Regions from separate parts of the Homo sapiens genome. Here region 1 is linked to region 2. Evidence: fine-mapped expression QTL. A gene starts in region 2. The other region holds a variant in brackets. All regions are shown on one strand. Distances are from middle to middle.

Region 1 (4,401 bases), 28 kb before region 2:
TATAATCCCAATACTTTGGGAGGCCAAGGTGGGCAGATCACGAGGTCAGGAGGTCGAGACCATCCTGGCCAACATGGTGAAACCCCATCTCTACTAAAAATACAAAAATTAGCTGTGCATGGTGGCACGTGCCTGTAATCCCAGCTACTTGGGAGGCTGAGGCAGGAGAATCACTTGAACTCTGGAGGCAGAGGTTGCAGTGAGCCAAGATAGCACCACTGCACTCCAGCCTGGCGACAGAGCTAGACTCCATCTCAAAAAAAAAGAAAAAAGAAAGAAAAAAAATACTCTAGTTGCCAATAGAACGATAAACATACCTGTGATATAAACTTAATGGAAAAGGAGAAAGACCTAAAACTGCAAGTTCACTGCGAATGTTGCAGTGTATGTGGTGATTAAAACACGGCAATAGTCTTATGTTGGAGAAATTAAAGATTTTTCTGAGGTATTACTTTTTAAATAGATGAAAATTGAAAAAGGAAACATAAGCACTGCTCTAATTAGTTATTTTGACTTTCCTTGAATATTGCCACATCATGGCATAGATGCATGATAGTCTTGTATGTTTCTAATATTCAGTGGGATTAATAGCCGATGTTAATTATTGGCTAAGTTTGGATATCCAATGTTAACTTATCAAATTGTCAGAAAACAGAAAATTGTGAAGTGAATCACTTGAAAATGGTGTATTTTTAAAAGTTTGATTACCAGTACATCACACATTTTCTTTCATATTGGACATCAGTCTTTTAATGAGCCTGAGCTACAATGGATACACACACGATGAGAAAATAGAAGGAGAAAAGAAAGAGATGGAAAAAGAGTGTAAGTGGGGAAGGCGGGAATAACCAAGAAAAGCTTGATACAATGTGCAGGAGCTACTTACATGCATGATGAGAGTTAAATTCTGAGTAAGAGCTGTGATGAGAACCTGCTGATGGCTCTCTGTGGGTTGGGCTAGACTTTTGATGCTAGGACGATGGACAGCTCTCAAATCCTACATAAAATGCAACTGCTTTTCATTCATTTTGGAGCAAAAATAATTTGCTTCCTCCCTTCTAGAACTGTGTAGCCCAGATTTCCTTTCATTACAAAAATTTTCAAATATTCTTAAAAACACAATAATACAATAAGCCTCTATCTGCCCAATCCCAGTTATCAACCTGTTGTCAGTCTCATTTCATCTACCCAAACTTTTGTATATTTGTTTTACGCTGGGGCGATTTAGTGCAAATCCTAACATCATAGTATTTCCCCCCAAATTACTTCAGGATGCATTTCTAGCTGATAAAGACATTAAAAAATATGACCACCACGCCATTATCGCGCCTAAAAAAATTAATAAAAAAATCTTCATATAAATGTTCAATTAGCGTCTAGTCAATATTTTGGCCAAGAATGCCTCAGAGTTGGTGCTTTACACTTCGCATTGCATCACATGAGTAGGCACATAATGCTTGGTGATTCCACTTTTGTAGTGCCGAGATGGAACAGTGGATCCAGGTGTTATCACCCTGATTTTTTCGTATAAAGTTCTCCATCAACATTTCACCCAGTGGTTTCAGCATCCATTGAGGATTGTTGCCTAAAATTACTCTAAAATATTTACTAATTGTATCCTTCCATCTGCCTTTATTAGTTGGAATTGTCCACACAGAACTTGCATTACCTATCTGGTTACACTGAAAAGCAGTTCATGCAGAAGGGACAGGACAAATGCTGGAATCTTTCCCTTTCTTTGTCAGGATCCCTAGTAACATTGAAGATTGACCAGTAAATGTCTATTTTTCAAAAGTATCATTATAAACATGGATTTTGATGCAGTCAATGGCAATTTCAGTCTACTGCATTAATTTTTTATGCTTAAATTGTTTCATTTTTAGCCAGTGGGAGACCCTTCAAGTTGACCCCTGGGTGCCTTTGATATGATCCACTAAAATTGACAGTTATCTCCTTTTGTGGCACAGCCAGGACCATCTTGTACATTCCCTGCTCTGGGTGTGAAATCAGCCATTCCTCAGGGAACTCTGATTTCTTTTAGTGGGAAATGGTATTTAGAGACTACAATTCAGTCATAAAGGTCACTCATTGCTCCTAGGCCCTTTCAGCAAACAGATCTAAGATACACACATGTCTTTTTAGAAACAAAGAAATAACGAGGTACTGGTATTTCCTATTTACTTACGAGATTACAGCGTTTTCCCATTATTTCTTTGGTTGTACAGTATCTTCTTTTCTTATATCCTCCCAGCTTTTTCTGCCTCCCTGAATTTGGTTGGATAGGCC[G/C]AAGACCTAACCCCACAGTGGCTTCAGATCCATCTTTTAGTCCCCTCCCCAATTTTCCATCCGAGCACCTCCCAGCTCTGAAATGTAATGAAATGTCTGATAGTTTCCTCATTAGAACTAACGTAGTGGAAATGAAATGAACTTGAGGGCATGTGCTGAAAATCTTCCTATTCCAGGCCAGCCCAAGGTCATGTGAGCCATTGGATCCCATAACAGTAACATTTCCATGTAAACCCCTCACAGCTTTCCCAGGAAATCACTCCTGGCAGAAATGCCTCCCTAGCAAAATCACAAGCAAAAGTAATTAAATGAGGTTGGTAGTCAAGAGCATATCGCCAGAGAGCCCATCTCTGATATTCCTCTGAGACAAAGCTGAGTGTTTTTCCATTCTTTCTTTCTTAAAAAATTGGAGTCAGGTTGAATTATGTTCCATAGCAACTTCTGCCAATGAAGTTGTCATGGTTACAGGTGAACTGGAAAGTGAGCAGTGACAAGCTGGGCTTGGAGTCCCTGAGCTACATGTCTTAAAGATACATCCATTTGTCTTCTGATCCTGGCCAGAAAAGTAATGAGAATTAATAGCGTTTCCCAGCAAGGTATAACCTTTGGACAGATGCAGACCAGGGGAAGATAGAGCCAAGGACCTCTTCAAATAAATATTCTCCTCCAGAATCCAGGGTCACGTTATTCCCCCATGCCTTCATCTGCCCACGCATGGGGGATGGGGCTGAATCACTGTGTGCTTGCAGCTTCCCAAATGCAGAAACCGTGAGCCACTCCCAGGAATTCTCCTTAGATTAGAAACCAATAAATAATATCTCCCTCTCATCTATGTTAGTGCCGTCCAATAGAAATAGAATGCGAACTACAAATGCAAACCATGTATGAAATTTTACATTTTCTAATAGCCTCATTTTAAAAGGTTAAAAGAAACAGGTGAATTTTAATAATTTATGTTTAACCCAGTATATCCAAAAATGCCATTTCAATATGTAATTAATATTAAAATGAGAAATTTTACATTCTTTTTTCATACAAAATTTTTGAACTTTGGTGTATACTTTACACTTACGGCACTTCTCAATTCATTATAAACTCTCATTGGAAATACTTGACCTTTACTGAGATTTCATAAATCTTACAGTTGAAAAAGTTGGTTCACATACTCAAGTTAATCCAAACGTACTTAAGGGTTTTAAAATAACAAACTGAGTATGCTCTAAATATTAAATTTAAATGAATTAAACTGAAATAAAATTTAAAATCTAACTCGTCCATCTCACTAGCCACATTTCAAGGACAAAACAGCTACATGTGGCTGAGGACTACTACATTGGACAGCATGAGTCTAAGGCTTTGCTACTCAAAGTGTGGTCCCAGATCAGCAGCATCAGTATCATGTGGGAGCTTATTGGAAATGTGTTCTTGGGCTCTACCTCTGATCTGCTGATTCAGAATCTGCATTTTAACATGATCCCCAGATGATCCTCATGCGCATTACAGTTTAAGGAGCTCTGCTTTAACGGAAAAAAATCTAAAACTCTTAATGTGGCTTTTAAGGCCCTTGATGAGCTGACCACTGCCCCAATTTCCACTCTCATCTGTCATTCTCCAAATCCATTTTCTATCTCTTCTTCCACAATTCAGTCTCTGTTCTTGCTCTTCTCCACTTACCTGGAAGGCTCTGTTTCTTTTTTTCCCATGGACTCTCACCTTCCTTCCAGACCCATTCAGATGTCACTTTCTCTGAAACCTTTTCCGATCCTTGCATTCTGGCAGTGTTAAACATCATTTCTCTGCATTTTGTATCACTCTGTACCTTTGCTACAGAGTCCTGTTCTTGCAGCCTGGCTTTAACACCTATTTACTGTGAAGTCTTGGGCAAGTTACTCAACATCTCTGATTTTCACTTTTTCATTGGGGAAATGGAAATTATAAAACTGCCTTCATGCACTTGCGGGGATTATAGATGCAATAATATTTCCATGTAAAGATATCAGTAGTTTCTAAGTCATGGGGCATCTTTGGCCGCTTATCACTTATGTAACATCTTAGACAGTCACTTAAGCCCTTCCGGCCTCAGTTTCCTCATCTGCAAATAAAGGAATGCGACTA
Region 2 (4,401 bases):
ATAAAGAAAGTAGGAACAATTGTGTACAAGTTTGTGTGTTAACATAAGTTTCCATTTCTCTGGAATAGATGCTCAGGAGTGTGATTGATGAGTCATATGGGAAGCATATGTTTAGTTTTTTAAAAGAAACTACCATGATATACCCATCTGTGAGTAATATATGAGAGATCCAGTTCTGTGCATACTCACCAGCATTTGCTATTTTATTTTTTAAGCTGTTTTGTAGTTGTTGTTGTTGTTTGTTTGTTTTTGAGATGGAGTCTTGCTCTGTAGCCCAGACTGGAGTGCAGTGGCGCGATCTCGGTTCACTGCAACCTCCGCCTCCTGGGTTCAAGTGATTCTCCCCTGCCTCAGCCTCCTGAGTAGCCGGGTTTACAGACGCGCACCAACACATCCAGCTAATTTTTGTATTTTTAGTAGAGACGAGGTTTCACCATGTTGGCCAGGCTGGTCTTGAACTCCTGACCTCGTGATTCGCCAGCCATGGCCTCCCAAAGTGCTGGCATTACAGGCATGAGCCACCGCGCCCTGCCTTTTTAAGCTGTTTTAAATAGGTGTATGGTGATATCTCAGCATAGTCTTAATTTGCATTTCCTTTATGGCTAGTGATGAACATCTGTCCTTATTTGCCATCTGTATAACTACTTTGGTAAAATATATATTAATGTCTTCTGTATATTTAAAAACTTATGATCCAGGATACAGTTTATCTTAATATATATACCAAGGTTGCTTGAAAAGAATGTGTATTCTGTTGGTGGGTGAAGTATTATGTAAATATCAATTAGATTAGGATGGTATTAGTGTTGATCTTTTCTATATCCTTGCTGACTTTCTGTCTAGTGTTCTATCAGTTGTTGAGAGAGGGATGCTGAAGTTTCCAATTACAGTTGCAGAGTTGTCTATTTCTAATTATGGTTCTATCATTTGATTTATTTATGTTAAGGCTATGTCGTTAGGTGTATCCACATTTAGAATTATGTCTTCTTGGTGAATTGAACCTTTTATCATTATATAATTATCCCTTTTTTATTCTTGGTAATTTTCCTTGCTGTCAATTCTACTCTCTCTGAAAGTAATATCACCACTTCAGCCTTTCAGTTTATTATCATCTAAACAACACTATTCAGCCTTTGCAGTCATCCACAATTATTAGAATTTCTTGGTTAGAGGCTTTTGACTACATGTTTTTAAAGGTTTTTGGCTGTATTGACAAATTGCCCTGCAAAAATTTACCAACTTAATACCTTAACATTTGGGCTAATTTAAAATAATCATAAATTAAAGTCAGGGCTTTCCCAATTTGATAGGTAGAAATCTTATAACTCTATGGAGGTGGAGTTGGTGGTGGTAGGTGCATCTCTAGATGACTTAAGTTCAAAAAAAGTCAAGAGATCTAAAAAAGAAGTCAAAAGATCTAAAATTCATAACTCAAGAAATAGGGGCATATGTATATTCGGAGAATCCGCGGGAATGCCAGATGCCACAGCCATAAGTAGCTGCCCTTGAGGACTGGACAGCCAGGACTGGACGGTGGGATAAGGTGACAGCTGGTTAATGGAATGGTGCCGCAGAGGACTGGTGCTTTTGTAAGTTCTCTGTAGCATTACAATTTTTAAAAGCATGTAAACGTATTAATTACCTTGACTTTACAATGACATTTGGTTGTTGGTTAAACTTGCATTTAAATTTATTATCAGAACTGCCATAACTGTGTAATCCTAACACTAAGTAAAACTCAGCCTCTCGGCGCAAATTATCACTCCCAACATTCCGCAGGCTGGTGGCGGCGCGGGCTGTCCTCGTACGCAAAACTACACCTCCCAGGATTCCGCGAGCCAAGGTTGTGGCCGGGGCCAGGGCAACCGAACTCGCGGCTCTGCGCAGGCGCACAGGCTCCGCGCCGGGCTCGCCCGCCGGGCAGGCGCACGGCGGACACCTGCGAGCCTGGAGGTGGCGGTCGCTGCGAACCCGGCGGCGCGGCCAAACCTGTGCTGGCTGCCTGGGCCTTCTGGGCCTCCTGGGCCAGAAGCTGGCGCTGGGGGCGGCGGCGGGGTGGGAAAGCGGCGCCGCCGTGGGGCCTCCTGGACGCGTCGGCGGAGGTGGCTTCGTCCCGCGGAGTCCAGGCTTCAGGTAAGACGCGCGCGCGCTTGGGGCTGGAGCGGACTCCGACACCCGCCTGGGACTTGAAGTGGAGGTGTCGAACCCTCGGCCCCCTGGAGGGGACGACGCGGTGCTGGGCCCCGGGGTGAGGGGGAGGTTCTAGGACGCCTTCGGGATCCAGGAGAGTTTGCAGAACTGAGGGGTGACGTGTGAAGCGAGCTGAGGGAGGCGCGGGAGGTGGGCGGGGCGGGGGTGGACCCTCAGGGTCGGGGGCCGGGGATTGGGGGTCGGGGGCCGGGGGCCGGGGACCTGGGCAACGCCCTGGGGCTTGCCAGTTCGAGCCCTCAGCTCGTGGCAGGCACTGGCGTCGGGTCCTCAGGCCCTTTTGCTTTGGGAGGTGATGGGTGGTGCACATTTGGCGGGGGTGGTGGGGAGCCACGCGAGGTGCGCGGAGCGGGCCTGGGCCTCCCCAACTGCCTTTGAAGGCAGAACCCCGGCAGGCCTGCAGCTGATTCCTGGGCGCTTTGGGGGCCAGTAGGGCACCTACCATGTGTGTCCGGTGGTAAGAGCTTGCCACGGCCTGCTTGGCAGTGCCAGAGTAGCCTCTGAAGAAGGAACCCAGTGAACTCCTGACTCCATGTGTGTGTTTAGGAACCCGTCTCCAGCTCACTGATGGGAACTCTCTGCTAAAGTATGTGACCGTCAGGCCAGAGTCTTGCACCAGGTGCAGGGCGACCAGTGTCTGCCTACTTTATTGCCAGCCAACACTTAGAGCGTACTCTTGGGAGAAGCAAGGCTCCGCGTGGAAAAGGATGACTTCAGGGTTATGGGGCGAGCTTGATAGGACTTAGTAGCTAAGAGCATAGACAGAGGAGGTTTCATTCACCAAATGTTTACTACAATATGTGCCCCGCCTTCAAATCTTGGTTCTCGGCTACTAGCGGTGTGCGTTTAAGCAAGTCACTTATCCTCTCTTAGCCTCTGTTTCTTTCTCTGTGAAGTGGAGATGAAAGTACAGTGCCTTTATCACGGGGTTGCAGTGGGGATGAAATAGTGCCAGGCAAGTCCTCAGCCCAGTATGTCTAACAGTAAGTGTGTGGCAAATATCAGCAGTCGTGGTGACTAACGACAGAAAGTGTTAGAGGTGCTTGGAGTCCAGGTTCATCTTTAATGGTACTAGCTGCCCTCTCTGGCTCTCATGAATCTTGCAGATCTTCCAGCTCATCCTTTCAATATTAATTTTGAGGAATCTCAGTCCCTGCAGAGCTAGGAAAGAGCATAGGTCCCCTCATCCCCAGGGGTGGTCAGCACGTTCCTTCCTGAGCCTTGGGCCCCTGCGAGAACGAGAAGGAGAGTGGAGATCTTCAGCAGAAAGGAGGGCATGGTGCTGGTGGCTGGGCCCACCGTGGCCATGTAAGCATGCTAGTTGGCAAGTTCTTGCTCTGAGCCTTGCTTTAGAAAATATTTAGCAATAAACAAAGCCTTCTAGTAAATATTGCACTAACTAGAAAATTAGATTACCAAATCCCCCATTCCAAGGGTCCTTGCCAATCTCAGCTTGGTTGTCAGTGGGATACTTTCCCCCCAGGACCTACCAATCACGTGATTCCCAGGGTTTCTTAAATTGGATGAAATAATGAATGTGAAAGGTGGAACCTGCAAATGTCATCACGGGCTTTGGAGTCCGTCTTGGTTTTGAATCCTAACCCCTCTACTTAATTGCTGTGTATCACTGGGCAATTCACTTAATGCCTCTAAGCATACCTTCTTAAATGTGAAATTGAATTAATAGCATTTACTTCAGGTAGTGGGGAATAAATGAGATAATGCGTGTAAAACAGTTAGCACTGTGCCTGGCTGAGAGTGAAAGCCAGTGAACAGGAGTTATTTTACCATTACGATTAATAATAATATTAGAAAAATAATTGTCAGACATGGTGTTTTGCCTTTGCTGTCTCTTTGAATTCACAAAACTACCCTGTGAAGTAGGTATAATTGTGTTTTTCAAGCCAGGAAGTGAAGGCTTGGAGAGGTAAAGAATTGGCCTAAGGTCACTTAGCTGCTAAGTGACAGGGATGGGAATTCATATCCTGGCATCTCCAGCTCCAGAACTGGTGCCATGTAATTCTCCTTCTCTGCTGCCCATCGTCCTTGCTGTTCTTGCATTCTTGAAGCCCAGTTATGACCTGGGGCAGCCTCCAGTCTTGCAGCAGGGAGTCTTCCCGCACCAAGTGGGTCAGAGGCAGGACCCTGCAGCCTGGCTGTGTGTTTCCTCTCTGTGGCTGGTGTTGGATGCAT

What was found. PIP is the estimated chance that this variant, and not a neighbour inherited with it, causes the effect.
Region 1: its variant is fine-mapped to the expression of POMGNT2 in whole blood (TOPMed, PIP 0.96).

The regions. Positions count from the first base shown.
Region 1 is chr3:43,131,694-43,136,094 of GRCh38, reverse strand. No RefSeq gene overlaps it. Among named protein-coding and RNA genes, the nearest start is that of POMGNT2, 28 kb to the right of the region's middle. The variant G/C (reference allele first, on the strand shown) is at 2,287.
Region 2 is chr3:43,103,568-43,107,968 of GRCh38, reverse strand. It overlaps POMGNT2 (protein O-linked mannose N-acetylglucosaminyltransferase 2 (beta 1,4-)), which reads left to right and starts at 1,890. Exons shown (of 2, transcript NM_032806.6): 1 at 1,890-2,133. RefSeq lists a silencer at 1,803-2,122.